Homo sapiens: one gene and its partners. The protein of the gene in region 4 purifies or fractionates together with the protein of the main gene of each other region. This does not show direct contact. Each region holds a gene or a part of one and is shown on either strand. Other genes may lie near its edges.

The links.
Region 1: the proteins of QPRT (region 4) and PIK3C2A purify together in Homo sapiens (affinity purification with mass spectrometry; 4 studies listed by BioGRID and IntAct, with this or other methods). This does not show direct contact.
Region 2: the proteins of QPRT (region 4) and ARID1B purify together in Homo sapiens (affinity purification with mass spectrometry; 4 studies listed by BioGRID and IntAct, with this or other methods). This does not show direct contact.
Region 3: the proteins of QPRT (region 4) and TRAF3IP2 purify together in Homo sapiens (affinity purification with mass spectrometry; 4 studies listed by BioGRID and IntAct, with this or other methods). This does not show direct contact.

The regions. Positions count from the first base shown.
Region 1 is NC_000011.10:17,204,977-17,212,844, forward strand, and holds the start of PIK3C2A (phosphatidylinositol 4-phosphate 3-kinase C2 domain-containing subunit alpha), read right to left. Parts: upstream 3,011-7,868; 5' UTR 2,872-3,010; intron 1-2,871.
Region 2 is NC_000006.12:157,179,366-157,186,386, forward strand, and holds part of ARID1B (AT-rich interactive domain-containing protein 1B), read left to right. Parts: intron 1-1,603; coding exon 1,604-1,813; intron 1,814-4,865; coding exon 4,866-5,070; intron 5,071-7,021. UniProt on the Homo sapiens protein: Involved in transcriptional activation and repression of select genes by chromatin remodeling (alteration of DNA-nucleosome topology).
Region 3 is NC_000006.12:111,595,859-111,602,879, forward strand, and holds part of TRAF3IP2 (E3 ubiquitin ligase TRAF3IP2), read right to left. Parts: intron 6,438-7,021; exon of another isoform or gene 5,357-6,437; coding exon of another isoform or gene 5,338-5,356; exon of another isoform or gene 1,980-5,337; intron 1-1,979. UniProt on the Homo sapiens protein: E3 ubiquitin ligase that catalyzes 'Lys-63'-linked polyubiquitination of target protein, enhancing protein-protein interaction and cell signaling. Transfers ubiquitin from E2 ubiquitin-conjugating enzyme UBE2V1-UBE2N to substrate protein.
Region 4 is NC_000016.10:29,674,569-29,682,187, reverse strand, and holds the start of QPRT (nicotinate-nucleotide pyrophosphorylase [carboxylating]), read right to left. Parts: upstream 2,991-7,619; coding exon 2,978-2,990; intron 1-2,977. UniProt on the Homo sapiens protein: Involved in the catabolism of quinolinic acid (QA).

The DNA of each region.
Region 1 (7,868 bases), on a different chromosome or scaffold from region 4:
AGACCAGCTTGACCAACATGGTGAAACCCCGTCTCTACCAAAATACAAAACTTAGGTGGGTGTGGTGGTGTGCACCTGTAATCCCAGCTACTTGGGAGGCTGAGGCAGGAGGATTGCTTGAACCCAGAAGGCAAAAGTTTCAGTGAGCTGAGATCACGCCACTGCACTCCAGCCTGGGTGACGGAGTGAGACTGTCTCAAAAAAGAAAAAAAGAGCCGGGCAGGGTAGCTCAAGCCTGTAATCCCAGCACTTTGGGAGGCCGAGGTGGGCAGATCACAAGGCCAAGAGCTCAAGACCATCCTGGCCAACCAACATGGTGAAACCCCGTCTCTACTAAAAATACAAAAATTAGCTGGGCATAGCGGCACACGCCTGTAGTCCCAGCTCCTCGGGAGGCTGAGGCAGGAGAGTCACTTGAACCCGGCAGGTGGAGGTTGCAGTGAGCCAAGATCGTGCCACTGCACTCCAGCCTCGTCAACAGAGTGAGACTCCATCTCAAAAAAAAAAAAAAAAAAAAAAAAAAGAATAATTCATGTTATCAAAGAAAAACAAGTTACAAAAAATGCTTTGCACTACTGCTGCTCTGATGCTCTATAAGAACTCTGAGTTCTCAGGAAATTCAACACTCTTTAGGTATAAGTTCACTTATTGAATGTGCTTACTTAAATGCAAAACTTTGTGCTACAGAAAGAGTCCTGGACATGGGAATTAATGCAAGCAATCTTCAATTAATTGAAAATTTTAGAACTATTAATTGCAGAAGAAACAAACTTAGTATACAGTTATTCATTACAAAAAGTTAGTTTCTAAAATTCCTCAATGCAAACATGCCAGCTTTTGTATTCTATAAAACAGAAAAAACTGCCAGGTGCAGTGGCTCAAGTCTTTAATCCCAGCACTTTGGGAGGCCAAGACGGGCAGATCACTTGAGGTCAGGAGTTCGAGACTAGCCTGGTCAACATAGTGTAAACCAGTCTCTATTGAAAAAACACAAAAATGAGCCATGTGTGGTGGCGCGTGCCTGTAATTCCAGCTACTCAGGAGGCTGAGGCAGGAGAATCACTTGAACCCTGGAGGTGGAGGTTGCAGTGAGCTCTCGTGCCACTGCACTCCAGCCTAGGCGACAGAGCGAGATTCAAACAGAAAAAAATTGTAAAACCTGTGATGAAAACATTAAAACATGTTATTTGCAAAGAAAACTGCAGGAAACACGCATATAAAACACAAATAGCAAGACACTTTGATAAGAAAAAACCTACTTTAGAATGTATTAATTCAGCCAAAATTACGGAATTTATGGAAGAAACTCCATATGTGCTTTCTACCTACGTAAAATCACTTTTGAACTAAATCTGAGTTAACAAATAAAATCTCTCTATTCCCAGTTACATTGTTTTTCAGTATGTAACCACTGTCTTGATACTAAACAAATATCTTATATAAAAATAAAATCTGTATACTTCAACTAGGGTCCTTTCGTCTAATTTGCTGCTGTGAATAAGAGCACCATCCTGTCCAGATAAGGTTAGATCAAATTTAAAAAAAAAAAAAGCACCATTCTGCTGGGCATGGTAGACCAGCCTGGGCGACACAGTGAGACCCCATGTCAATTAAAAAAAAAAAAAAGAGCACCAACCCCAACTATGGCAGAGCTGCTAAAGGAGTCTCTTGTGGAGACTTGAACCACAAGCCAAGGAGGCAAAGGTACAAAGTCTCTCCTGGAATTAGTTCCTGGACTTCTGTGCAGCCTTCCCTCTTTCTACTATGTCTTCACCGTTCCCCTACAAACAGCTTTCTTCTTCTTGCATCTCTTATATGCTGTGGCCTTTGATGCTACAATAGATTTAAAAATTTTCCCAACAGAGCTTTTCTGCCTGAAACCCACCAGGAAAGATTTCAGGACATTCTTTAATAACTAATCTTGTTCAAAGAGGCAGGCCTCCTTCGTTTCACTTAATTCAAACCCCCACTGTTCAAAATAAGAATATAATTATAACCTCAATTTCTATCGGGCCAGTATAGGAAAAGAACTACAACAGGCTCTCTCTTCCACGTTATGTCCAGACTTTTTTCCTTAGTTTCTCCTTCCTCATTTCCCTCCTCAATCCCTCCTCCCCCAAAAAATAATTCCACAGCTAGAGAATGTCGTTTTTAAAGCCAGAAATTCAGTGAGGAAAATAAGTATGTGCCTTTTTCTTCAATTATTTATGATTCCTCCGTCACTCAGGAAGAGTTAAGCTAGTATTTTTTAATCTGACCGCTCTCTCAGAAGGATGATGCGCTAAATACACACTGAAAGAATAGTGTTCCCAAAGCAAGTGGATTCGCGGCTAAAGGCAACGCGGTGGGAGTGGGGGGTCCGGGAAGAAGAAAAAGTATCCTTGGCCCCCAGAGCCAGAGATGGGACAGGAGGTGAAAGAAGGGGCCGTCACTGAGAAGTACAACACACACACTCGCCAGAACTAACAATCTGCCAAGAAAATAGGACCGGCCACTGCGGCTCCAGCCCGGTCCCGCGGGACAAGGCGGGGGAGGGGGGCCGGCGGCCGGGGGGCCTGCCCTCCTTCTGTGGGACAAAACTAACTCCCTGGCGCACCTCCGCTCCCGAGAAGAGGGGCCTGGTGGGGACGCGGGCTCCTCGCACCTCCAGCGCAGCACTTGCTCACGGCCTGGGTGGAAGCAAGGCCCGGAGGGAGGGGGGAGTCGGGCTGGGCAACGCCAAGAGCACGGGATGGAGGGTCAGACGCGGGCACCCAAGGCACTGGGGGCCGCGACAAGAGACCCTTCCAGCCCGGGAACCCCGGGGCCCCTCTCCACCCTTGCAGAGCAGGACCCCGAATATCGTCCCCAGCCGCACCGACCGCTCCTCACCTCAAGCTGCCTGAGCCTCCGCCTCTACCACAACCTGAGCCGCCGAAGCCGCCACAGTCCGAGCCATTTTTCCCCTCAGCTGGCTCAGCCGCCGCCGAAAGCTTCGGCCGACTCCACAGCCAGCCAAGCGCAGCACGTCACTTCCGGACAGGGAAGCACCGCCTTCCCCGCCCGGACTTGTTGCGAATTGGCTGGCGCGGACGGCCTACCTGAGCTGGCGGGCGGGGCTTGGACGCTGCCGGGGTGGCGTGAGCAAGGGAGCTGGGGCGCTGGGGCGCACGGGCCCGGGGGACCAGGGTCTGGCTCTCTCCCGAGGAATGCTGAGCAGGCTCTGGACGCCTCTCCGTGCACACCCCAGACCTGGGGAGGGGAGCTCTCCGGACACCCCAGCTGGCCGCCCCTCGGGCCCTGAGTCCGAAGACCCGCTAAACAGGGCCCGGGCACTGAAGTACCCTATTGTTCTCATCCCCTCTCCCGGGACCCCGCACCCTCCTCCATCTAGGCTGAGGTTCCCAGATTTGTGTCTTGGCCCCTGGCGGCGCCGAGATTACTTTGTGATTGGAAGACTGAAAGGAACAGGCAAGACTTAAACTCGTCCACTCCAACCAGTATTTACCGAGGCCTCACGGTGGGTCAGGTGGTATACGGTGGGTAATTAGTAGCCTATCACGTGGTTTCTGTAAAATGCTTGATAGCACGTAAAACGCTTTCAGGTCGGCGTCTCGTTTCATCCTCACAACAGCCAGGTAAGGAAGATAACCCCCTGATAATAACTCACAGCCAGACGGCTCTTTCTACATTACAAAGTATTTTCACATGCAACCTCCATAATAATATATTCTTATTGAGAATTTAATGAGATTATGCTTGTAAAGCGTTTGGTCCTCACGTGTTAGATCTAAAAATTACGTAACCATGGGAAGATATAGGAAAATTATCCCCATTTACAGATGGGGCTTCTGGGGCACAAAGATGTTAAGGGGAGAGGAACGATTCCATAGCGTTTTACAACAAGATTGTCTTTTAAGCAGTAGGAGAAGGGGGTCCACACCATCCAGACGTTCACAATCTGATGTGGCAGACTGATTTAGGCTGCATTTCTCAGCCTAAACTAAAAATTATCAGCCTATATGATATACGCATAATTAGAAGGCTCTAAGAGAAGTTGAACTTTCAGCAAATAACTGGAAAGAAAGAAATTGGCCTGATTTGGCAGGGACGGGGGTTGGCGAAAGGGGGCTAGGGCAATGGGGAATGTGGAGTGGATGAATCCCTCATAGCGCTGTAATAAACATGCCTGCACCTCCGCAGGGATGGTAAAATTGGATGGAGTTTCTATTCTATGGGGAATTCTAGAAACAAATGTGATTATTTCTTACGGCTGTAGCTACTGGCTGTTGTACACCCCCCCCCCTTCCAACTCCTATCTTTCCCCCAACCCCGCCCCTCCTCTATGCACACACACTTCCAGGCAGGCTACACACTCTAGAAGAATGTCCCTTAGAAATCAACTTAGTTCCGCAGCATTGTTCTGCTTTATCTTCTGATCAAAGGAGGAATTTCTAAAATTGGCAGCAGCTCTTTCACAAGATTAAAAAGGGTGGGGAAAGTGATTTATCTCAGGGTAGCTTCCTAGCTTCTGCTCCAGATCTGAGTGTGCCTTCAGGAAAGAAGGAAGAGGCCTTGGGAGAACACTGAGTCTTCAGGAAAGAGTAACTATTTGTCTGTCTTTTTTTTTTCTTTTGTTTTCTTTCTTTCTTTCTTTCTTTCTTTCTTTCTTTCTTTTTCTTTCTTTCTTTTTCTTTCTCTTTCTTTATTCCTCTCTCCCTCTCTCTCTTTCTTCCTTTCTTTTTTTTTGATCCAGCGAGACAGACTGGATTTTTTCTTCTAATTTTTTTTTTTAATGAAACGTATTTCCCCTGAGTCTCAGCAGCAGAGGGCCCTGGTCCTTGAGTCACTTCCTTGTTGCAGTTCTGAATTCATTATTTTATTATAGCTTTTGAATGACTGATACATGGTAGGCTCTGATCAACCAAAAGGTTCCCAATAAGGTGAAGAGAAAGAAAAGGAGTTTGATAGTTTTCCAGATTCCAAAAAAATTAGCTTTCACAAGTTGCCAGGTGTCAAGAATCTGAACAGGTAACCCTCTCTCAGCATATCTCATCTGTCAGCAATGGCTTGTGAAGATGCATGTGTAAACAGTAGGAACACAGACTTCTGGGAGACAGTACAAACTGGTGCTGCTGTCATTTGGAACCAACTAGAACATAGCTGGCAACCATTTCTCCTGTTTCCTTTCTTCCACTGGCTTCACTTTTTTTTTTTTTTTTTTTGAGACAGAGTCTCATACTTGTTGCCCAGGCTGGAGTGCAATGGTGTGCTCTCGGCTCACCACAACCTCCGCCTCTCTTGGTTCAAGGGATTCTTCTGCCTCAGCCTCCTGAGTAGCTGGGATTACAGTCATGTGCCACCACACCCAGCTAATTTTTGTATTTTTAGTAGAGACAGAGTTTCTCCGTGTTGGTCAGGCTGGTCTCGAACTCCCGACCTCAAGTGATCTGCCTGCCTAGGCCTCCCAAAGTGCTGGGATTACAGGCAGAGGCCTTACATTTTTCACTGTTTCAATCCTAACTTCCCACAGACAACTTCCCAGTACCACAAATATTCCCCAGCTTCTTCCAGTACCACATGAGAAATGGGCAATCTTTTTTTTTTAACCACAGATAAAATATAGTGGATAACAATGATTAGCATTTGCTAAGGCCAAGCCCTGTTCTTAGTGTTTTATGAGTATTATCTCATTGACTTCCTCCAACAACCTTCCTGAAAGATATAATTATTATATCCTAATTTTATAGCTGAGAAATTTGAGGAACAGAGAGGAGAGTAACTTGCCCAATGTCACACAGCTACTAAAGAGCAGAGCTGGGATCCAAAACTGGGTCTGACTGCACAACCCATGCTTTTTTAACCTCACAGTTCCGCCAGCGGGCCAAGATTTTAACATCTACGAAATGCTGTTAAGAAGTATAATAGTTAGGTTTTTATTTCCTTTCTCAATGTTATATCCCCACCTGAGTAGAAGGACTCTGCTGGGTACTATACCAAACTACCTACCTATTTATTTATTTATTTATGTTTTTTTGAGACAGACTCTCACTCTGTTGCCTAGGCTAGAGTGCAGTGGCGCAATCTCTGCTCACTACAACCTCCATCTCCTGGGTTCAAACCTCCAGAGTAGCTGGGATTACAGGTGCACACCACCACACCTGGCTAATTTTTTGCACTTTTAGTAGAGACAGAGTTTCACCATATTGACCAGGCTGGTCTGGAACTCTTGGCCTCAAGCGATCCTCCCATCTCAACTTCCCAAAGTGCTGGGATTACAGGCATGAGCCACCGGGCCCAATTATTTAATCCTGATTATGTAAGCAGTTTGAAGGAAAACTACAGTGTTCTTTGATTTAGAATAGAAGGCAGGAAGGCCTTCCCTGAAAAAGTGACACTGAGCTGAGATCCAAAGGATAAATAGAAATTGAGGATGGGGGAAAGCATACCCAGCAGAGGGAACAGTGTGTGCAAAGGCTCTGAGAAAGGAGCATGGCTCAGCTGAGGAACTGAGAGGCCAGTGTTGTTGTTATACTGAGAAGAAGAAGGAAGTATCTTTATTCAAAAAAAAATTTTTTTCTAGACACGGGGTGTCACTATGTAGCCCAGGCTAGTCCCAAACTCCTGGCCTCAAGCAATCCTCCCACCTAGCCTCCCAAAGTGCTAGGATTATAGGTGTAAGCCACTGTGCCTGGCCAGAAGCATGTTAGGTACTATAGTGAGACAGGAAGATAATGCCAGGCCTGGGAGGCTGTATTAAGAATTTAGGTCTTTATCTTAAGAATGAAGAGAAAGATTTTAAGCCTTCAAGTGATCAGAGTTGCATTTTTGAAAGATTTCATAAAGCTAGGAGGAGAAAGAATTAGAAGGGTCTAGGGGATTTGGGTAGCCCAGTCTGGAGTTTATTGCAACTGTGTAGGGAAGTGATGATGGTGGCTTGAACCTTGGATAAGACACAATAAGTGTGTGGCTCACGCCTGTAATCCTAACACTTTGGGAGGCCGAAGCGGGTGGATCACCTGAGGTCAGGAGTTCAAGACCAGCCTGGCCAACATGGTGAAACCCCATCTCTACTAAAAATACAAAATTAGCCAGTCATGGTGGTGCGTGCCTGTAATCCCAGCAACTTAGGAGACTGAGGCAGGAGAATCACTTGAACCCAGGAGGTGGAAGTTGCAGTGAGCCAAGATCGTGCCATTGCACTCCAGCCTAGGCAAAAAGAGCGAAACTCCATCTAAAAAAAAAAAAGACACAATAAATGTGAAGTTGACTGAGCTAGGGTTCCTGGCCTTGGAGACAGTCCAGTAGGGGAGAGCAACTTAGAAATAAAAATAGTATATTGTGCTATGAGCACTACTAGAGGTAAACCCAAATAACTCTGGAAGCTCGGAGAAAAGATAGAGGGAAGATGGAAAATGTATTAGTTATCTATTGCTGCATATCAAATTACCCCAGCATTTAGCAGCTTAAAGTAAAAATGATAAACATTTACTAGATCACAGTTTCTGTGGGACAGGCATGTTGGCATGGCATAGGTGAGTGTTTCTGATTTAAGATCTCCCACAAGATTGCAGTCAAGCTGTCAGCTGCCAATCCCATCTGAGGGCTTGAATGGGGGGAGATCCACTTCCAAGTTCACTCATGTGGTTGTTAGAAGGCCTTGATCTCTCCCTACATAGGCAGCCCTCTCCCCAGGGCTTCCTCACAACATGGCCACTGACGTTCCGCAACGTGAGTGACCAAGAAAGAGAGCAAGAGAACCAAGAGTATGTGAGAGAAAGCACCCATGGAAAGAAGCCACAGTCTTTTTGTAACCTAATCTCAGAAATGGTCTTATCACTTCTGCCATACTCTATTTATTAGAAGTGAGTCAATAAATTCAGTCCACA
Region 2 (7,021 bases), on a different chromosome or scaffold from region 4:
CCTAGTCAAGTAGGCCTTGGGTACAAGGATATGAAAAATAAGCTTTAAAAATTTATTTGGATATATAGTTTCTATATTCTAAGTGTACATATGGGTTTATAGACATATATATATTCACACATATATGAATATGTATACATATATATTTTTTAAGCTCTTATCTAAAGTGGTTTTTAAGTGATGTGAAGTTTAACCTCAGCATCAAAGTATATTCTAAAATATAAAACAACTATTTTTTATCATTCTACATTTTTTATTTACATCAACTGTATCACCCATTACATATTTGATAAAGAGGTTATGCCTCAGTAATTCTGAAGCTGAAGGCTTAAAATCTCAGCCCAGTGACTCTGGAGAATCACGTGTTAGTTAAAGGGAAAGCGGCGGCCTCACATGCTGCGTAAGTTTCATTCTCAGGCATCCTTTCTGAGGGACCTACTTTTACTGGAGATCATTCTGCTAAATAAGGTAACATCTAGCCTCAATGGCAGTCATGTTAGTTAACCCCCTAAACCTTCAAAAATATGTTTAAAATTATGTTAAGCTAAATAAAGAAAAAAGGAAAAAAAACTTAAGAATTCTGTCTGTAATAATTTCTCTATATTGCAAATAATAACCTAGGTATGCATAAATAAAGTAAATTATTGTTCCAAGAAATCTTTATTGAGAACTGAGAAAAGATTTTGTACAATAACCCTAGTATTGCAAATATTGTAAATATTTTTACAAATACAGAGATATAAATAAGAAAGGGAAGAGATACAGTTGGCCCGCCTAGGGCTAAAAGTGTTACCTGTCCAGATTATGTAATCCACGGAGTAGGCTTCAGGTGTTCAGAAACGGCAACTCTTGATATTTTAGTGTCAGGTAAAAGCAGGTACATAGAAACCCAAGAACTAGAGTATCAATATAAAACACATGAGCATATAAATACATGGGCATAAAAATAAATGTATATGTTTATCCATAAATCCCAAAGCTTTGGTTGACCCTTAGTTTATCTAAAAAAAAAAAACAAAAAAAAACAAAAAACACACGAGCTTATAGCCCACACCACTGGTTCCCGTGACTGGAAATCTACCTTATATTTTTCAGCAAGCACCGTGTGGTTGCTCATCCTCCAGATGCTGTAGCATTTTAACGAAGACACCCTTTAGCCATTCTTGTTTTGACAAGGAAAAGTAGGAGTCCATTTAATGTTTTGGGCTCTATAATATCACATGTAAAAATTTTAATTCACTATGATCATTCCATGAGCTAGAACCCTTTTATTTTTAAAAATAACATGAGGTGTCACTGGAATTTTGCCTTCTGGGATTCAACGCTTATATCCAAAAAGGGCTTTGTTCTTTTTTGTTTTTGTTTTTAAGTGTATAAAAGGGGGAGTTTGGGCCTTTTATTTAAAGTAAAAGTAAATTCCTAACTAAGAAAATGTATAGTTTGTGCCTGAACTAGTAGCCTTCATTCCTAATTGTTGTGTGATAGCAGTAGTTTTTAATCTCTTCTCTTCTTGTATTTGTTAGCTCATTACTTTTTTCTCACCTTCTTCCCTCTCCCTCTGCCCACCCATGCCCCACCTCCACATGCTGCTTCTGGGTACTAGAAGTCCAGCTCCTCCACCACTACTGGGGAGAAGATCACGAAGGTGTACGAGCTGGGGAATGAGCCAGAGAGAAAGCTCTGGGTCGACCGATACCTCACCTTCATGGAAGAGAGAGGCTCTCCTGTCTCAAGTCTGCCTGCCGTGGGCAAGAAGCCCCTGGACCTGTTCCGACTCTACGTCTGCGTCAAAGAGATCGGGGGTTTGGCCCAGGTAAGAATGAGTGAGGGAGGGGGTGAAAAAGGAAGCATTGTGGATAAGTTCTTACAGTGGCTTTCTTTGAATGTGTGGACTCATTTTTTTTCTCACAAAGGAAAAGCTAAGCCTGTGTGAAAGTCGCCTTCTTGCAACCCACGTCTGTGTGCTGTCAGGGAGCACTGGGGGACCCTGGCTCTGCCACCAACTCGCAGCGTGACCTCAGCAGGTCATGTTCTTGGACCTCAGTTTCGTCATGTATACAGCGGGCCAGACTAGATTTTCCTGTAGGTTTTCTTACAGCTCCAGAATTCTCTGGAATCTGCCAGTAGTTCATAGTAAATACTCAGAAATGTTTTACAAATGACTGAATTAATTATCTGTGTCAGATATAAGTCACATTTACTGCTTCCCTCTATCCAGAACAGGTTAGCAGGAAAATTAAGTGATACTTGTCAAACCATGCCCACAATAACTGGACAGTTAGGAGGGCCATTGCTGTGACCTCCAGCGGGCTAGGCCTGAGGTGTGACAGGGGAGCTGCCTGGGGTGCAGATTTAAGGAGCTATCCACTGTGTGCTTGCTTGACTCTCAGAGTGAGTGCGTCCTGAAGTCTCATACCCCAGGCACCGGCTTTCCTCACTGTAGCCCTCGCTCCTTAATCAGGAGTCTAGTTGTAGGACCACGCCCTGTCATAGGAACAGGGAAAAGGTACTCACTGTGTAACCTTTGTCTTTCTAAATACATGAGTCACCAGCCCCAAAGCATAGATGAGAAAACTCCTGTGTAACAAAATCAAGTACAGGATGGGGTGCAGTGGCTTACACCTGTAATCCCAGCACTTTGGGAAGCCAAGGCAGGAGGATCACTTGAGGCCAGGAGTTGCAGACTAGCCTGGGGACCCCAGTAAGACTTTGTCTCCATTAAAAACTACAAAACTTAGCCGGGCGTGGTGATGCACACCTACAGTCCCAGCTGTTCAGGAGGCTGAGGTGGGAGGATCACTTGAGCCCAGGAGTTCAAGGTTACAGTAAGCTTTGATCACACTACTATACTCCAGCCTGGTTGACAGAGCAAGACCCTGTCTCAATAAAAAATAATATATTTTTTAAAAAATAGAATAATGCTGTAGCCCAGGGACACTCACAGGGTAGTTGGTGGGGCCAGGTCTGTCTGACTCCAGACACATACTCTTCCCATTTGCCACTGGTTCTGGAGTCCAGCTATGCATTAGAATGGCCTGGGCAGCTTTTCAAAGCTGTCAGTACCTGGGCTACCACCCGACATCAATGAAATGAAACCTTCTGTGCCCAAGGTAATCTAACAGGCAGTCAGAATCAGGCGCCCTGCGCCCCACCAAGGTGGCGGGGGTCACTAACTATCCAAGGGCAAGTCATCTGCCCTGCAGGTGTCACTGACGGCCTACCGTGGTCTCAGTGCTGCGTCTCGGGGGAGAAAGGGGAGGCCTTCTTTGTGCTTAGCCTTCCCACTAGGTGCCTAATCCATTCCATGGGGGAACTGAGACCTGTGACAGAAAGAATTAGAGCTTGCCCATGACGCTGCATAACCAGCTGCTAAGTCGTGTGATACCACGTGTGAGTGATGGTCAGCAAAGAGAATGATTGAGACACGCCTCTCTCTGACCTGGACTCCCTGACCTTTCCCCTCTGCACCTGGGCTCCTTTGCCTTCTGCCCCTGGACTCCCCTGACCTTTCTCCCCTGCACCTAGCCTCTTCTGACATGGATTTTTTAGAATCACCAAGACTGCTCAAACGATTAGATTTTATCAGCCAGCACAGAGTAGATAGTGTCTGGCTACTTCCTTACTGTGACTGTGTCCACAGTATATATAACCAGGCTGGGTCTGTCATGAGACTCTCCGCGGGCTTATAATGAGGGTTGCTGGAATGTAGCTGGGTTGCATCTTTGTCCCCACCCCATCATGCTGTGTACCTTGTGGGCATCAGATGTGGTTGGGAGCAGGTGCTGCCACCACACAAAGCTCAGCTCCCAGCCTTCCTTCTTAGGTCACACTGAGCAGCGCCCAGCTTGCCATTTCTGAAGTAACCTGAAGACCCACAGTTTGCAGCCCTGCATTCAGTGCCAAAAGAGGGCGGTGGGCATCTCCGGGAGCATCCACAATTTATTATACACCACCGAGTACTAAGTAAATGGACAGAAGAGCCGTGTGAGAAAGTTTGAACCCAGAAATTTAATATTTCATTAAAAACCACTGTCCCCTTACCTCCTCCCTTGCCACACAACGCAGGAGACATCAAAAGGCAAAACCTTCCCCAAGTTATTTGCAAATCCTCATGTTTCATCCATGTGTTTAACCGTTTAACCTTTCATAACCTGTTCCCAAGTGGGAATCAAAAGGTTAAAATAATGCCTCGGATCTTGACGTCACATTTCAGGAGTTCTCTTTCTTTCTCCTCCTTTTGCGACTGTGTTGTCTCCAGCCCTTTAAGCCTCCTTGAGTAAGAGCACCGCACAGGAAGGTGTGCACCTGCCCCGTCAGCAGGGCTGGTGGCCAGTGGCATCGCATCATGCTTTTTAAGTTGGGGGCCGTTGGTCCAGGGGCTCATTTGCCTTTGCACGAGGTGCTGCTTTTGCTTTTGCCTGACACCCCAAGCAGTCTTGGGGTGAGGGGATGGGTACGGCCCAGAATCACAGGCCCACTTCTGAGGGCTTGCAGCTGCTGGAATGAGCACTTTCACATCAGTGCCCAAAAACCTAACTTGGAAAATAGTGCCGTTGTTGCTTTTTAAATGTTTTGAGATGCCCTTTTTCCTTAATTGGAGGTGCAGTGGGATGAGCGTGAGGCGTTGGGAGATGTGGCGGGCAGAAGGACCTCCGAGCAGTGCTTTTTCTGTTGCCATCAGCAGGTTCCCTAATGGTTTTATAACTGTAAATGCTGCCTATGCACTGCTGAGTGGGAGTAATGAGCATTAGTTAAAAGAGGCAAATGAAGAAAAGTCAACCAAGACATTAAGTGCTTTTTTTGTCTCCTGGCTTTAAACAAGCCACTTTGTTGCAAACCAATGATCCTGCCGTGTTTTTCACTAGGTTAATAAAAACAAGAAGTGGCGTGAGCTGGCAACCAACCTAAACGTTGGCACCTCAAGCAGTGCAGCGAGCTCCCTGAAAAAGCAGTATATTCAGTACCTGTTTGCCTTTGAGTGCAAGATCGAACGTGGGGAGGAGCCCCCGCCGGAAGTCTTCAGCACCGGGGACACCAAAAAGCAGCCCAAGCTCCAGCCGCCATCTCCTGGTAAGTGGCGGCGCTGCAGTCACTGGCCCAGGAAAGCCCAGGCGCCTGGCCTGGGAGGTTCCGGGAAGGTGGTTTCACAGTCAGGCCAACAGGGAACTTGGGACTTTTGAGAGGTGGGGGGTTCCTGTGTCGTTTTGTTTATTTAATTGGACGCCCACTGGCAGTGTTAAGGGATGAGAGAATTAAATCTGGGATATGGCCATTTCTGGTTGACACTTGGAAGGCACCCCTTCTTTTGCTTTACCTTAATCAAAACAGGCTTTCGAATTCTAAGCCATATACGTTTATTGCTTATACAAGTATTCAAAAAGATTCCATCTACCTCTACACAAAATAAAGATCCCCCAGTGGCCAGTTTGAATACATGTGCACTTCTAGGAAATGCCACCCTACAGGTTCGACAGCTCGAGCTCCCCCGCCCTCTTTCGGAAATCCTCAGATTTGAACTTTAGTAAAATGAAGCCTGGGCTTCGTTTCTAATGTCCCCTACCCAGCAAGTTCTCACTTCTAGGGAATTTAACAAGCTGTCGTGGTAAGGATCCACACGGCCTTGTTTTGGAAACAGGTGGTCTTTTGCAGCCTTGTTCTGGAAGTCAGGGGTCTTAGGAATGGGTGCAGCGCTGGCCACCAACACGCTCGCAGGCCGAGCCACATCAGTGACGCCTGCTGGCTCCCTTCCCTCTCCTCCCCACTGACAGAGACCCTCCCATTCCTTTCAGCTCCCCTGCCAGCCTTCGTTCTACCGTTTGGCTTTCAGATTTGAAATGACAAAATCATATATTCTGATAAATGCAATAGTAGAGAGGGGAAGAAATTGGCACCTTAGTGCTGGGTGGTGACCTTACTCCAGTAGATCCGACCATTCTCTTATCTGTGTCTGCCTCGCAGTCAGCGACCTTCAGCACATTAGCCTCACTGTTCCTGGTCCCTGTCTATGAGATGTGGCTGCACCCACCGCTCCTGTACACAGCTTGTTCTGAGCGTGGCTGGCAGCCCATGTTTCCTGAGCACTTCCAGTGTGCTGGGCCCTTTTCTAAGTGCTATCATTTCATTTTCACATCAGCCCTGTGACATTGATACTATTTTAAAATCCATGAGAAAATGAAGGTCTCGTGGAATCTAAGTACTTGCCCAAAGCCAACTAGCTGGGGAGTAGAAGGTCTTATCTGGGGCATCTGGTGCTACAGTATACACGATACCCACCAGACACCTCTGGCTGTATTGAAAATACCTTTGTAATATGTGAAATGTTTACACATAGAAGCCAGAGAAAGAGGTCATTTCATTTTTAATGATTTCCTCTAGCTGCTGTCTGGATGGCAAAGCTGATATCCAAGGTTGCTAATCAAGGGATCTCACATAAATACGTTTTAGGCCCAAAGTGCACTTGTAGTGAATATACCTAGAATTACATCTGTAGGCTCTAAAAACAAGTAGAAATCCTCGCTAACCTCATCCTTAAAGATTCAAAGGCTTTACCAACTCAGGTGTCCCTTAAAAACTGGGAAATCTAATTTTAAAAATCTCACAACATTACATCCAGTTCACAGAGTAAAACAAGCTGCCTGTGAACAGCTCTGAAACTATTTTTCCAAAATAAAAACCCAGTGGGGCGTAGGGACCAAAGTGGTGATGTCTGTAAAGATCTAAGGGTACATTTTATTTGCCAGGAAAGAACTCGTGTCACTGAATGGGCTGCACTTGTGTATGGAGAATAGCTCTCCCAGTGTGCATCAGCTTCAGGACGGGGGCCCTGCTGAGGCGTATAGATCCTTCAGAAAGTGGAGGGCCTGTTCTCTTAACAGCCAGCCGTTCCCTTTTCCCCTTTTTTAAACTGTCATTTTTATGGCAACATTATCATTTTAACTACACAAAAGAGCTTGGATTGCAAATGGACTCCTGGTATACATTCTTCTCAGTAGTCCAGATGGAGCCGAGGGCCTGTGACACA
Region 3 (7,021 bases), on a different chromosome or scaffold from region 4:
AGAGATAATCACAGTAATTTCTGAAGACACAGAAAACATTCTTCCTACCTTCAAGTTGCTGTGATCCAGCCTAAGAGAGGAAACTAAGTAACATGCAGAAAACCCACGACCGGCGTCCCAGGGCCTTCGTGCTTGTCGCTCCCTCTTCATGGAACACCCTTCCCCCACACAGCTGCATGGCTGGCTTCCTTTCTCCTTCAGGTCTTTCCTTGGCTGTCACCTCAGGGAGGTCTCCCTGGTCGCACTCCCTAAAATGTTTACACTCTCCTCTCATTCCCATCTCCCTTCCCTGCTTTACCTTCTTATCCAGCAGTTATTACTGTCTTATATATTACCCAAATGTATATGATATACACAAATATCTAATAATCTCTTATTTGCTCATTGCCTCTCCCTTCTCCCAGAATATAAACTTCCTAAGGGTGCAATTTTCTCTTTTCTTTTTCTTTGTGATACGGGGGTCTTGCTCTGTCACCCAGGCTGGAGAGCAGTACCTAGATCATGGTTCACTGCAGCCTCAAACTCCTGGGCTCAAGTGATCCTCCCACCTCAGTCTCCCAAGTAGCTAGGACTACAGGCGCACGCCATCATGCCTAATTTTTCTGTTTTTTCTGAGACGGAGTCTTGCTCTGTCACCCAGGTTGGAGTGCAGTGGCACAATCTCGGCTCACTGCAACCTCTGCCTCCCGGGTTCAAGCGATTCTCATGCCTCAGCCTCCCGAGTAGCTGTGATTACAGGTGTGCGCCACTGCGTCTGGCTAATTTTTGTATTTTTAGTAGAGACAGAGTTTCACCACGTTGGCCAGACTGGTCTCAAACTCCTGACCTCAGGTGATCCGCCCGCTTCGGCCTCCCAAAGTGCTGGGATTACAGGTGTGAGCCACTGCGCCAGTCGGTGTGCCTGACTTTTAAAATTTTTTTGTAGAGATGAGGTCTCACTATGCTACCCAAACTGGTATTGAACTCTTTACCTCAAGCAGTCCTCCCACCTCAGCCTCCCAAAGTGCTGGGATTATAAGTGAGCCACCACGCCTGGCCTGGGGGCATGATTTTTGACTGTTCTGTTTACAGCTATATTCTCAACACCTAGAACTGCACCTGGCACATAGTAGGTGCTCAATAAAGATTCACTGAATGAATAAATAGTTGATGCCTATTTCAGAGAGGGGACAGACAGGTCCATGTAGCCGGATCAGTGACAATGAGAATGTTGTCAACAACAATGTTGGGTAGCAAGGAGTATCTGGTGGGCCTGGTCCTCAGAGTTCTTAAAATTATGCCACGTGGGTGACCCTTCCCTCTTCTTTTTTTTTCCTCTCCAGAACATTTATTAAGTGCCCACTATGTGTCAAGCACCCAAGTTAGGTCTGGGCCATGCCCAAAGGTCCTGCCCATGGGCAGGATTGACCACAACCCTTACTTGCAGAATAAAGGTGATGCCATCAGCCAGTGTAATGGGAGCATCTGCTCTTAGATTCCAGGCAGGGAGTTGCTGGTCTTTGTGCCTCTGCAGAGCTCCACCTAGAACTGAAAAGGGTGGGGCACGCCTGCCACTACCACACAGGCCCCCTCCAGCCCCAGACCCCTGTCTGAACTGGCAGAAAGTGGGCAACCCTGCCAACTCTCCTGAGGCAGTCATAGAGAACAATTACAAATGCCACATCAGGGGGCCACAGACAGATTAATGGGTTATGTCAAGGATGGCAGTTTTATCTGTTTTGTCTTTAATGTCCATAGTGTAAAAATACTAAACATTAAAAAGCAATCACTCAGTATCTCACCATTGTATTTTTAAAATACAAAGAAAACCATTCAGCAGAGGGTGAGAGCATGTACCCTGGGTAAGCACGAGTGGGCATGAACTGGGGACAGAGGTGAGTCCTGGGGACATATAACTGGATGGAACAGCTGTGCATGTGAGCCTGGTTCTTGCTTGTTCTGACCCGACCCATTTTTCTGTTTTTCCTTTTTTTTTCCAGGCTTTCTCCATATTTACGTGCTTGTAACTCTGGCATGACCTTTGCTCCAGTCTCTACCAGAGGGCGGTGCCTGGATTGAAGTGGAAAAGCCCTGTTTTCCAGCCATGACCCAGGGAGCAAGCACTGACTCCTCAGGGGAACAGGAGACCTGCCAACTAGGACCCTGGGAGCCCCCATGCTGGCAGTGCCCTGGGTCATCTCAGGCTCATCAGCAAATCCTGGGGGGAGAGCGGGGCTGGAGGGCGAAGAAGCCCAGGAGAGTTCCTGGCTCAGAACCCCTCTCTGAGGCTCCCAATACAGAGCCCAGGCCCCACACCCAGGGCCTCTGAGTATTTTTGTTTATTGTATGTAAAATACTAGTGTATTTTTGTTTAAGTCTCACAGGTAAACAGGTTCTCTCATACTTTGCCAAGGGAAATGTGATCTGTGCAATTTGGCAATAACTATCAGAATTTTAAAAGCTTATGCCCTTTGACCTAGTAATTTCACTTCTAAGAATTTCCCCTGCAGAGATATGTATATCTTGTATGAAATGAAGAGGCTACGAAGACAGGCAACGCCGCAGTGTTTATAATAGCGAAGACCAGACACAACCCACATGTCTAAAGGTTCTGATTTTTAAAACTGTAGTATATCTGTACAATGAGCACTCCACATCCTTTAAGAATGAGGAAGGGCTGTGTGAACTGAAATGGAACTATCTCTAAGATTTATTAAGTTAAAAAAATTCAAGAGTAGCACAGTGTGTAGGGTATGCCATCATTTGTATGATATAAGGTCGTATATCTGCCATCTCAAATGAGGAACAGTGGTTGCCTCTGGGAAGGGAATTGGATGGCTAGGAATGGGGTAGGAAAGAGGTTTGCTTTTCAGAACATTTTATACTATTTAAGTTTTGTAACAAGTGCATCTATTTTGACTTAAAAGATAAAAAATGAAAAGGAAAGGCTCCACTAGTGATTCTGATGCTCACAAAGATTAAGAACCAATGCGAATGAGGAACTCATGACACCGCCCAGGAGACAGTGAACATATCTCTTCAAATATCAAAAACCTTTCAGCAGAGGGTGAGAACATGTGCCTGGGGTAAGCATGGGTGGGCATGAGCTGGGTACAGAGGTGATTCCCAGGGACATACAACTACCTTGCCCTCCTGGGATCAGGTCTTCCTCCCACCTTAGCCTCCCATATTGTTGGGACCACAGGCATGCACCACCACACCTGGTTAATTTTTTTTTTTTTTTTTTTTTTGTAGCGACAGAGTCTCGCCATGTTGCCTAGGCTGGTCTCGAACTCCTGGGCTCAGGCAATCCTTCTGCCTCGTCCTTCCAAAGTGCTGAGATTACAGGCATGAGCCACTGCACCCAGCCTGACAGTAGCTTTTAATCTCTGGACTCTCATCACCGTTTGGACTGTGAGCTGTGGTTCTAGCTCTTGGATCTGATGGGCATCTTCCCTCAAATATGTCAGTTTCTCTCTCCAGGTCCCTTGCTTTGTCTTCCTTTTTGCCTCCTCGGGCCTGATACCTTTCTCTGGGCTTCTCTACTCTGCCCCGAGCTGCCTAGTTTTGCGAATAATGTCACATCCAGATGTCAGCAGCCCTGATGTCCATGTGACAATGCTCCCTTGCTGTCCATGTGACAATGCTCCCTTGGTGTCCCAGTGACAGATTTTCCCATGCTTCACCCTCTCTCTTTTTTAATTTTTTTTTCTGTACACAGCTCTCAGTCAAGCCCCTTGAGCTGCCTCCAACTGTTTGCTCATGTCTGTTCCCAGCAATCTTTTCCTCTTTTAGCACAATCTTCCTTAACTTACTAGTTTTTTGAAACAGAGCCTATTAGTCTTCACAGCGCTACCTTTCTGATCTCAGAGTTCACCAAAAAGCTTTTCCTCCCATCATGCCTGCCTCCCTTTCTTCAGGTCCGTTAGAGTCCACCGTGGCCTGTGTGGGAAGCAAGTCTCTCCCAGGGCACACATGAACAGACTTCATGCCCACATCCACAGTGAACAGTGGCTTCTGCCTTCCAGATGGGCTTACCCTAAATCAACACATATTCCTAGGATGTGGGAACATATGCAATACTTAAATGCACAGGCTCTGGGTTCAGACTCCCTAGGGTTAAATTCTCCCTGTGCCGGCTAGCTGCATGATTAGATTTGTGATCTTGACAAAGTTACCTAACGTCTCTGGGCCTCACTTTTCTCATCTGCAAAATAGGGAAAATAGCAACACTTCTCCATAGGGGTGTGGTGAGGATAAAGAGTAGATGTAAATAAAGTGTTGAATGTAGAGCCTGGCACATATCAAGCTCTTAAAAAGCAATGGCCATTTTGTTATTTTTACCGCAACGACAACTGCAGTTATTATCTGGCTTCAGAGCTCTCTTTTTAAAAACAGTATTCCCTGGTTTTACACCCAGGTGCTAATACTATTCTATGAAGCTAATGTATAGAGACCATATCTTTTTAACAAACGTGTATATATGAGTCATTTCCGGCACATTTGATACACATCATCTCGTTTGGTCCTTAAAACAAGCCTAGGCCATAAGCAGGGTACGTGTTACCACTTTGCCATTCCTGTTTTACAGAGGCTTAGACACATTGAGAAGCTTTTCCATAGTCACTTAACAAGTGATGGGTGAAGCCAAATCAAGCCTTTAGATCTCCAAGCTCTTTCCATTAAACCATATAAATCACGGGTTGGCAAACTTTTTCTGCAAAGGGGACAGATAGTAAATAGTTTAAGCCTTATGGGCCACATGCTGTGTCTGTTTCATATTCTGCTCCTTTTTTATTTTTATTTTTTTTAAGAAAAGACACCCTTTAAACATATAAAAACCATTCTGAGCAACAGGCTGGTGCTAAAAACAGGTCATGGTAACCATTGGCTCTAGGGTTGTAGTTTACTGTTGATATAGATTGTACACTGATAAGCCAAAATACAAACCTAATGAAACTGACATACTTAAGGAACTTTACTCTTTGTTAGCAATCATTGTTAATATTTATTGAATGGTGACTACGTGGGAAATGCTGTTCCAAGTGTGATAGATATATTAACTTACTTAATCCTCACACCCACTCTAATTTCCTAAGTACTATTGTCAGACTCATTTTACAGACAGGAAAAGCAAGGCATAGAGAAGGTAAGTAACTTTTCCGAGGTCACATGGCTATTAAGTAGCAGAGCTGTGATTCAAATATAAGCGGTTTGGCACCAGATCCTGTGCACTTAACCGCTTGCATCTCGGTTGGGAGCACTGACTGGTTCAGCTATTGGGAGGGAAGAAAGGGGATGGGGAAGCCACATAACCCCTAGGAGATTCTGTAATAAATATGCTTCAGAGCCATTCACCTTGAAGCTGAGGAGGCATGGAAGCAGGCCACCTGTGTTCTGTACAGCATCACCAGGCTGGAAATCTGCCATGGCTTTCCTTCACGCCATCACAAGAGGATACAGATGAGGCTGCAGAGGCATCTTGATTTGAGAAAAGCATTTGACTGGATCTCATTAAATTTTAATCATTAACTGAATTCAAAATAAATTGAAAACTGGTTGACAGAGCACCAACAAAGGGTGATGATAAATGGTGATGCATCTAGAGGGGAGCTATCTTCCAGGGGACAACTCTAAGGCAAGGACGGATGGGATTTAATGAAGGTGTTATGTCCCCAGAAGAAGACAAATAGCACAGCAAGGAACAGAGGAAGGACAGGAGTGAGCAGCCTGAGTAATTAATAAACCATATTAACAGCTCCTCCATAATCAGGCCTTGGTGATCACAACTGCTTGGATTTTTTCTTAAGCTTTCTTTGAGTCAGGAATAGGTTTGAAGCGTCCTAGAGACACACAGCATGAATATTTCAGGTGGACATTAAAAAGAAATCTATAAATTTACAGCTGGGAGGATCCTGAGATCTACTTCGGATCAGAAACTTTCAATTACAAGATTCCCAAGGCCTTACTTCATTCCCCAGAGAGTAATCTTTTTAATAAATGTCCAAAAGTCATGGATTTAAAAAAAAATCTTTAAACTCATTAATGTCCTTTGTTTCCTGCCCAAATGCATGCAAACTTTCATAACACTGGTTTGCTGAGTGGAAGGTTGGTTTTGAGTGAACTGTTTGGCTCAGATTCAAACTCCAATGAACAAATACTTCCAAGTTTACTTGCTGAATTTCCCATACAGAGAAGTTCTTCCACTGGGCTTGCCAGAGGATTTGAAACAGTGGTGAGCCCTGGAAGGAAGGGAATATTTACTGGCCCTTGGACATAAACCCAGCACAGTAAGACTCACATCAGGCTGAAGGCAGTGCAGTATGAACCGACCTGATTTGAGGAAGTTTGCTCTGGGACTCCTCTGAGCTACTAAATGAGGAGGAGAAGGACTAATGGGAACACACTGACTCCATCACATTAGAAGTTATAATAAACATTTAGAGAACAACCTCAAACCAGCCCATGTTTTTTTTTTTTTTCTGTCGTTGTCATTGTTTTGGTTTTTGTTTTTTTGTTTCTTCAGATAAGATGGTTTCTCTAAGCACATGTGTGATCCCTAATTCAGCCACAGCCACGGAGTGAAGGAGAGGAAGGGGTAGAAAGGAAAAACCAAGAGAGGAAGAGGAAGGGAGAGAAAGGAAGGAAGGAGAACGGAAGAGAAGTAAGGAAAGTGGGGAAACGCTGAAGGATTTTTTTGTATTTGCCTTTTATTGGTGTAGGAGAGACACTTATTTACTTGTAATTTGTATGTAGTGCTGGGTATGAGAAGGGGCAGTTGGAAGAGAAGGGAAAGAATGAATATAGGTGAAAGGTAAGAGTGTCATAGGGTAAGCTGGGAGGCCAGGAAGAGTTTGGACAGACAGCTCAGAGTAGGAAGAGAGTTCAGAGCGGGGAGGGAGACCTGTTGACTCTGGGAAGGGGAAAGGGAAAAAACACTGGCATCCTGACTGCAGGGAAACAATGAGGCAGCGGAGAGCAAGTATCCCTCATTGCTGAGGGAGCTGCCAAGACCCCAGGCAGCCTCAGTCTGTGGGGTGCG
Region 4 (7,619 bases):
TGTGGTGGCACACGCCTGCAGTCCCAGCTACTCCACAGGCTGAGGCAGGAGGACCACTTGAGCCCAGAAGTTGGAGGCTACAAACAGTGAGCTATGATTATGTTACTGCACACCAACCAGCCTGGGTGACAGAACAAGACCCCGTCTAAAAAACAAAAGAGGCCGGGTGCGGTGGCTCACACCTGTAATCCCAGCACTTTGGGAGGCCGAGGAGGCAGATCACAAGGTCAAGAGATCGAGACCATCCTGGCCAACATGGTGAAACCCTGTCTCTACTAAAACTACAAAATTAGCTGGACATGGCAGCAAGTGCCTGAAGCACGTGTAGTCCCAGCTACTCGTGAGGCTGAGGCAAGATAATCACTTGAACCTGGGAGGTGAAGGTTGCAGTGAGCCGAGATCCTGCCACTGCACTCCAGCCTGGTGACAGAGTCAGACTCCATCTCGAAAAAAAAAAAAAAAGAATCTGGATCTGCTAGCCTGGCCAACATGGTGACACCCCATCTCTACTAAAAATACAAAAATTAGCCGGGCATGGTGGTTTATGCCTGTAGTCCCAGCTACTCGTGAGGCTGAGGCAGGAGAATCGCTTGAACCCGGGAGGCAGAGGTTGCAGCGAGCCAAGATCATGCCACTGCACTCCAGCCTGGACAACAGGGCGAGACTCTGTCTCAAAAAAAAAAAAAAAAAAAAAGAATCTGGATCTGATGAAAATTATGGATCTCCTTCCCAGAAAAATGCGTAACCGTGTTCTCACAAAGACACACAATTTCACCTGCAAATTCTGGGGTTCATGAACTCCCCCAGAGCCCATCCCTGATCCCTCAGTAAAGAATCCTGGCTCTGAAGGAATCAGGTCGAGACCCCTTGACATCTGCTAAGGTATTTAATCTTCATTACAACCCCGTGAGACCAGTGCCACCAACTCCATTGTCCAGATGTGGAAACGGGCTTCTACAGGTTACAAAACTTGCCAGGGTTTCCACTGCTGCTGAGTGGCAGTCAGGATTCACATCCAGGTCGGCGTTGTTTCAAAAGAGAAAGACACAATGGAGATTGAAAGGTGTTTGGCGTGGCATCCTGCATGGGACCCCTGAGAGCTGGTTCCACAGTGGAGCCAGAGGGACCGGGTGTATGGGGCCAGCAGGCACCTCAAACATGGAGGAGGGTCTAAGCACCTGTGCCTCCCATCCTCTGTCCTCCCCACAACCTTCTGAGCAGGGAACTATTTATTTTCCTTTTTTTTTGAGATGGAGTCTCGCTCTGTCGCCCAGGCTGGAGTGCTGAGGCCTGGTCTCAGCTCACTGCAACCTCCGCCACTGGGGTTCAAGCAATTCTCCTGCCTCAGCCTCCCATGTAGCTGGGATTACAGGTGCGCACCACCACACTCGGCTAATTTTTGTACTTTTAGTAGAGACGGGGTTTCACCATGTTGGCCAGGCTGGTCTCAAACACCTGACCTCAAGTGCTCCACCCACCTCAGCCTCCCAAAGTGCTGGGATTACAGGCGTGAGCCACCGTGGCGGGCCAGAGCAGGGAACTATTATTGTCATTTTACAGATGGAAGAAAACGGGACTCTGAGAAGCCAGGACCCACCCATGGTCACACAGCCCCATCCCTGGTGGAGCCTTCTGAGCGTAGAGCATGGACCCCTGGGTTTGTGCTGGTGGAAGGGTTTACGGGGCGCCAGTTTAGTCAGCCACCCCTGTGTAGGACACCTATGGAACACCATAGGGGGCCTCTGAGGAGAATCACCTCCTTATTGCCATTGTGTCCCCAGGCCAGTGAACATGACCTGCTCTGCGGCTTTACACAGAATGCTCTGGGCTGAAACACTTCCTTGAAGCGTTGGAATGTGACCAGACATCCTGGCTCCTTGTAAAACCCACTCCCACCAGCTGCAGCCCAATAAGTTAAAGATTATCTTAGTTGGCCGGGCACGGTGGCTAACACCTGTAATCCCAGCACTTTGGGAGGCAGAGACGGGCGGATCACGAGGTTGGGAAATGAGACCATCCTGGCTAACATGGTGAAACCCCGTCTCTACTAAAAATACAAAAAATTAGCCAGGCGTGGCGGCGGGCGCCTGTAGTCCCAGCTACTCGGGAGGCTGAGGCAGGAGAATGGCATGAACCCGGGAGGCGGAGCTTGCAGTGAGCCGAGATCACGCCACTGCACTCCAGCCTGGGGGAAAGCGAGACTCCGTCTCAAAAAAAAAAAAAAAAAAGATTATCTTAGTAGTTAGACATATGCTTTGAGCTTAAAGGAAATTCACATAAACCACCACGGCTATACATCTTTCAAATGACGCGCACACCCCCACCTTCACCGTTTCACCCCGTACCATCTGCTTCTTAGATCAAAAGATTGTACTCAATAAATTATCAGGCAACCAGGGCTCTGCAGCCTTCACTTTAGCAACTGGCCCCCTGGGGCTGCTTTAAATCTTAACTTGTCTTTTCTCATTCCTTTGTTGCCACCGGACTTCATGGTTGGGGGTTGGGACTGATCACCCCAACAGTTTGCATACAGCTCCCTCCAGGCAGGGAATCACGGGACTCAAGCCCCCTCCCCCACCCAGCTGCAGAAGGGACAGGACTTTGTCTCTGCTTCTCCCGAGCTACCAGCGAGAGCAGAAGTCCATGCTGCTCCCCCAACCAGCCTCCCACTTCCGGCCCCCACTGCCCCCAGGAGACGCCACCTCCTCCAGGCCACCCTGCCCTTTTCTAGGGCTTAAGCCCCTTCCTTCCCCAGAGCTCCTTGGGGACTCAACACAGGAGAAAGAAGAGTGAGAAGGGGCCTCTGGGGGTTGAGCAAGGCTGCAGGGACATGGGGTAGGTAAGGGAGTCGATGGCGGGACCAGAGGAGAGATGACTCCAGAGGAGGCAACAAGGGGCTGAGACAAGCCAGGGTGGGGGCAGGGGTAGGCAGTGGGGGGATGGGTGCAGGGACATGGCAGAGAGAGTGTCCCTTTACCTTCAGCGTCCATGGTGACTTGCAGCTGTCTGGGCTGGTGTGTTGGCTGCTCAGGACCAAGGCTCCCAGAGGCCCCAGGCTGGGGGTGGGACTGTGGAGGGAGGGAGGGCCCATCAAGCTGTCAGCCGGCCCTTCCCAGGCTCCCCAAGCCTCCCTCCTGTCCTCTGCCAGGCCTGCAGATTCCTCAGCAGGCCCTGAAAGTCAGAGGAGGGGCTCTGATGGGGAACTCAGAAGCCCTGCCCCAGCCAGTGAAGGAGCCCGAGGCCCTGTTCTCACCCAACACCCAGCCCTCCTGGCCCTAACCCAGGGTCCAAGGCTGTGAATGTAAGCATGTGCTCCCTGGTGAGGGCAGGCAGGCATTTTGGATGGTGTGCTGGGAAAATCATGGGCCCTGGACCTGGGTTCAAATCCTAACTCCATCCTTTTTGATCTCAAGTACCTTTTTACCTTTTTCTGTGCCTCAGTTTCCTTAGCTTTAAAATGGCATAACAGGGCCGGGCACAGGAGCTCACGCCTGTAATCCCAGCACTTTGGGAGGCAGAGGCAGGTTGATCACCTGAGGTCAGGAGTTTGAGACCAGCCTGGCCAACATGGCGAAACCCCATCTCTACTAAAAATACAAAAATTAGCCGGGCATGGTGGCGGCCGCCTGTAATCCCAGCTGCTCAGGAGGCTGAGGCATGAGACTCACTTGAACCCCGGAGGTGGAGGTTGCAGTGAGTCGAGATCATGCCACTGCACTCCAGCCTGGGTGACAGAGTGAGACTCTGTCTCAAGATAAATAAATAAATTTATTAATTAATTTAAAAAACGGCATAACAGGCCGGATGCAGTGGTTCACGACTGTAATCCCAGCACTTTGGGAGGCTGAGGCAGGCAGATCACGAGGTCAGGAGATCGAGACCATCCCAGCTAACATGGTGAAACCCCGTCTCTACTAAAAAACCAAAAAATTAGCCGGGTGTGGTGGTGGGCGCCTGTAGTCCCAGCTACTCGGGAGGCTGAGGCAGGAGAATGGTGTGAACCCGGGAGGTGGAGCTTGCAGTGAGCCAAGATCATGCCACTGTACTCCTGGGCGACAGAGCGAGACTCTGTCTCAAAAAACAAAACAAAACAAAAAAACCCGGCATAACAGGCTGGGCACAGCGACTCATGCCTGTAATCCCTGTGCTTTGGGAGGCCAAGGCAGGAGAATCGCTTGAGGCCAGGAGTTTGAGACCAGTGTGGGCATCATAGAGACATACAGAGATCCCATCTCTCCCAAAAAAAGAAAAAAGAAAAAGAAATTAGCTAAGTACAGTGGTGCACACCTGTAGGCTGAGATGGGAGGATCACTTGAGCCCAGGAGTTCAAAGCTGCAGTGAGCCGTGATCGTGCCACTGCAGTCCAGCCTGAGTGACAGAGAGAGACCCTGTCTCTAAAGAAAAAAAAAATGTAATGGCATAACATCTACCTCATGGGTCCAACTGAGAATCAATGAGAAAACTCTGCAAATGAAACAGAGTAGGAACTCACCTAATATCCACTTCCCTTCCCTTCCCTCTTTCCAAGGAACTTTAAGGGCACAGACAGCTTAGAGCCCAGCTTCTGAACCAGAAAGTGGGGAAACCACCAGTCACCGGGACTGGGACTTCAGGCAAGTTCCTGTCCAAGAACTGCCAGGGCCTTTCTTTCTTCCTTTTTTTTTTTTTTTTGATGGAGTTTCGCTCTTGTTGCCGAGGCTGGAGCGCAATGGCGTGATCTCGACTCACTGCAACCTCCGCTTCCCGGGGTCAAGCGATTCTCCTGCCTCAGCCTCCCGAATAGCTGGGATTACAGGCATGCGCCACCACACCCGGCTAATTTTGTATTTTTTTTCAGTAGAGACGGGGTTTCTCTATGTTGGTCAGGCTAGTCTTGAGCTCCCGACCTCAGGTGATCCACCCGCCTCTGCCTCCCAAAGAGCTGGGATTACAGGCATGAGCCACCGCGCCTGGCCCAGGGCCTTCCTTTCTTCATTGGAAACCCTTCTTGCTACAGTTGCTCACAGGGACTGCTAGTCGCTAAATTCACTTGCATCTTCCCAGCCTTCTCCCTTTGCTTTCTCTGCCGCACCTGACTGCCGGGACTGGGGCTGGCGTGACGGATCGAGACACCCAAGGCACAAAATTTAGGGAGGCCTCATCCTCCAGCTCACTTTTTTTTTTTTTTTTTTTTTTGAGACAGGGTCTTGCTCTGTCACCCAGGCTGGAGTGCAGTGGCACAATCTTGGCCCACTACAACCTCCACGCCCCAGGCTCAAGTGATCCTCCTACCTCAGCCTCCTGAGTAGCTGGAACCACAGGCGTCTGCCACCATGCCCAGCTAATTTGTGTATTTTTAGTAGAGAAGGGGTTTCACCGTGTTGGCCAGGCTGGAGTCGGGCTCGCTTATCACCCCAGCACCTTGCTGGCCTTGATTCAGTCCTGGGCCTGTTTCTGAGGCTGCAGTGAGCTATGCAGTGAGCTTTTTTTTTCTTTAGAGACAGGATCTCCAAATGTCATTTTTCTCCTGGTTAATTTTTTTTTTTTTGGATACAGGGTTTTGCTCTGTCACTCAGGCTTAAGTGGAGTGCAGTGGCCCAATCAAAGCTCACTGCAGCCTCAAACTCCTGGCCCCAAGCCTCCTGAGTTGCTGGGACTGTATGTGCATGCCTCCACCCTAGGCTAATTTTTTATTTTTATTTTTTGTACAGATAGGATCTTGCTATGCTGCCCAGGCTGGTCTCAAACTCCTGGCTTCAGGTGATCCTCTTAAAGGCTCTTTTCTATCTTTTGCAGGTGCTTCTTCCTACATCCAACCCTCAGATTTTGGTGTTGCTTCAGTGTGGCAGAGACTGTTTCCCTTTTCCTTCTGGGTACCCTACTAAACTACATTTCCCAGCTTCCTCTGCACTGAGGCAGTCTTGTTCTGGCCAATGGAGTGTGAGCAAAAGATATTTCCAGACCTGACCCTAGAAGTCTTCACAGGATCCTATTCTGCCTCTCCCCTCCCATTAGCTGGTCAAAAGCAGACCACTCCAAGGCCCTAGGAGGATGACAGAGCCACTAGATGGAAGGAGACTGGGTCCCGGAATAATGTTGTGAAAGGTCATGCTCCAGATGTCAGGAATTGACTGTCATAAGAAGGAAAAAACTTCTTTTGAGTTATACCGCTGAGATGTGGGGGCACTGTTTCTTACAGCAGTTAGCCTGCCCTGACTATTACACTCAGATTCTCTCTACAGCTCTCTTCTCAATCTACCCAGTGAATGATATAATTTATGTATCTATCTATCTGTATCACTATTTATTTATTTATTTATTTATTTATTTTTATTTTTATTTTTTGAGAGGGAGTCTCACTCTGTCACCCAGGCTGGAATCCAGTGGTACAATCTCGGCTAACTGCAACCTCCACCTCCCGGGTTCAAGTGATTCTCCTGCCTTAGCCTCCCAAGTAGCTGGGATTACAGGCGCATGCCACCATGCCCAGCTAGTTTTTGTTATTTTTGGTAGAGATGGGGTTTCGCCATGTTGTTCAGGCTGGTCTCGAACTCCTGACCTCAAGTGATACACCCACCCTAGCCTCCCAAAGTGCTGGGATTACAGCCTTGAGCCACTGCATCCAGCCGACTCTTAAATCTATATCTTCTATCCTGAGTTCCCTCTCAAGCTCCAGGCCTCTATTCTGTTTTTGTTTTTGTTTTTGAAACAGGGTCTCACTGTGTCACCCAGGCTAGCGTGCATTGGCATGATCACAGCACAAAGCAGCCTCAACCTATAGGGCTGAAGTGATTCTCCTGCCTCACCCTCCTGAGTAGCTGGGACTACAGGTGAATGCCACCACGCCCATCGAACTTTTTTATTTTTAATAGGGACAGGGTTTCGCCATGTTTAAAGGCTGAAGCAATTCTCCTGCCTCGGCCTCCCAAAGTGCTGGGATTACAGGTGTGAGCCACTGCACTTGGCCAATAAATCTATTTCAAACCCAACCTCTTTCACCTTCCAGACTGCCACTGTATCCAGCGTGGGCTAGAATAATATTATCATTTCACACTTCCTCAGAACATCCTCCTGGATGACCAGGTCAACTCAAAGGACAGAACTGGGCCAGGCACTGTGGCTTGTGCCTGTAATCCCAACAGTTTGGGAGGCTGAGGCAGGAGGATCACTTGAGGCCAGGAGTTTGAGACCAGCCTGGGCAACAGAAATTTGTTTATGAAAATAAACAAATAAGGCCAGGCGCGGTGGCTCATACCTGTAATCCCAGCACTTTGGAAGACCAAGGCAGGCAGATCACCTGAGGTCGCGAGTTCGAGACCAGCCTGGCCAACATGTTGAAACCTCGTCTCTACTAAAAATAGAAAATTAGCCGGGCGTGGTGGCGCGCATGCCTGTAATCCCAGCTACTTGGGAGGCTGAGACAGGAGAATTGCTTGAACCTGGGAGGCAGAGGTTGCAATGAGCCAAGATCGCACCACTGCGCTACAGCCTGGGTGTCAGAAGCAAGACTCTGTCTCAAAAATAAATAAATAAATAAAACTATTCTTTGTGCATGAATTTATTCATCCCTCCATTCAGTAAACATATACTAGGTAGCTACCGCATGCTGGGCCCTGGGCTCTGGAAACACAAAGAGGACA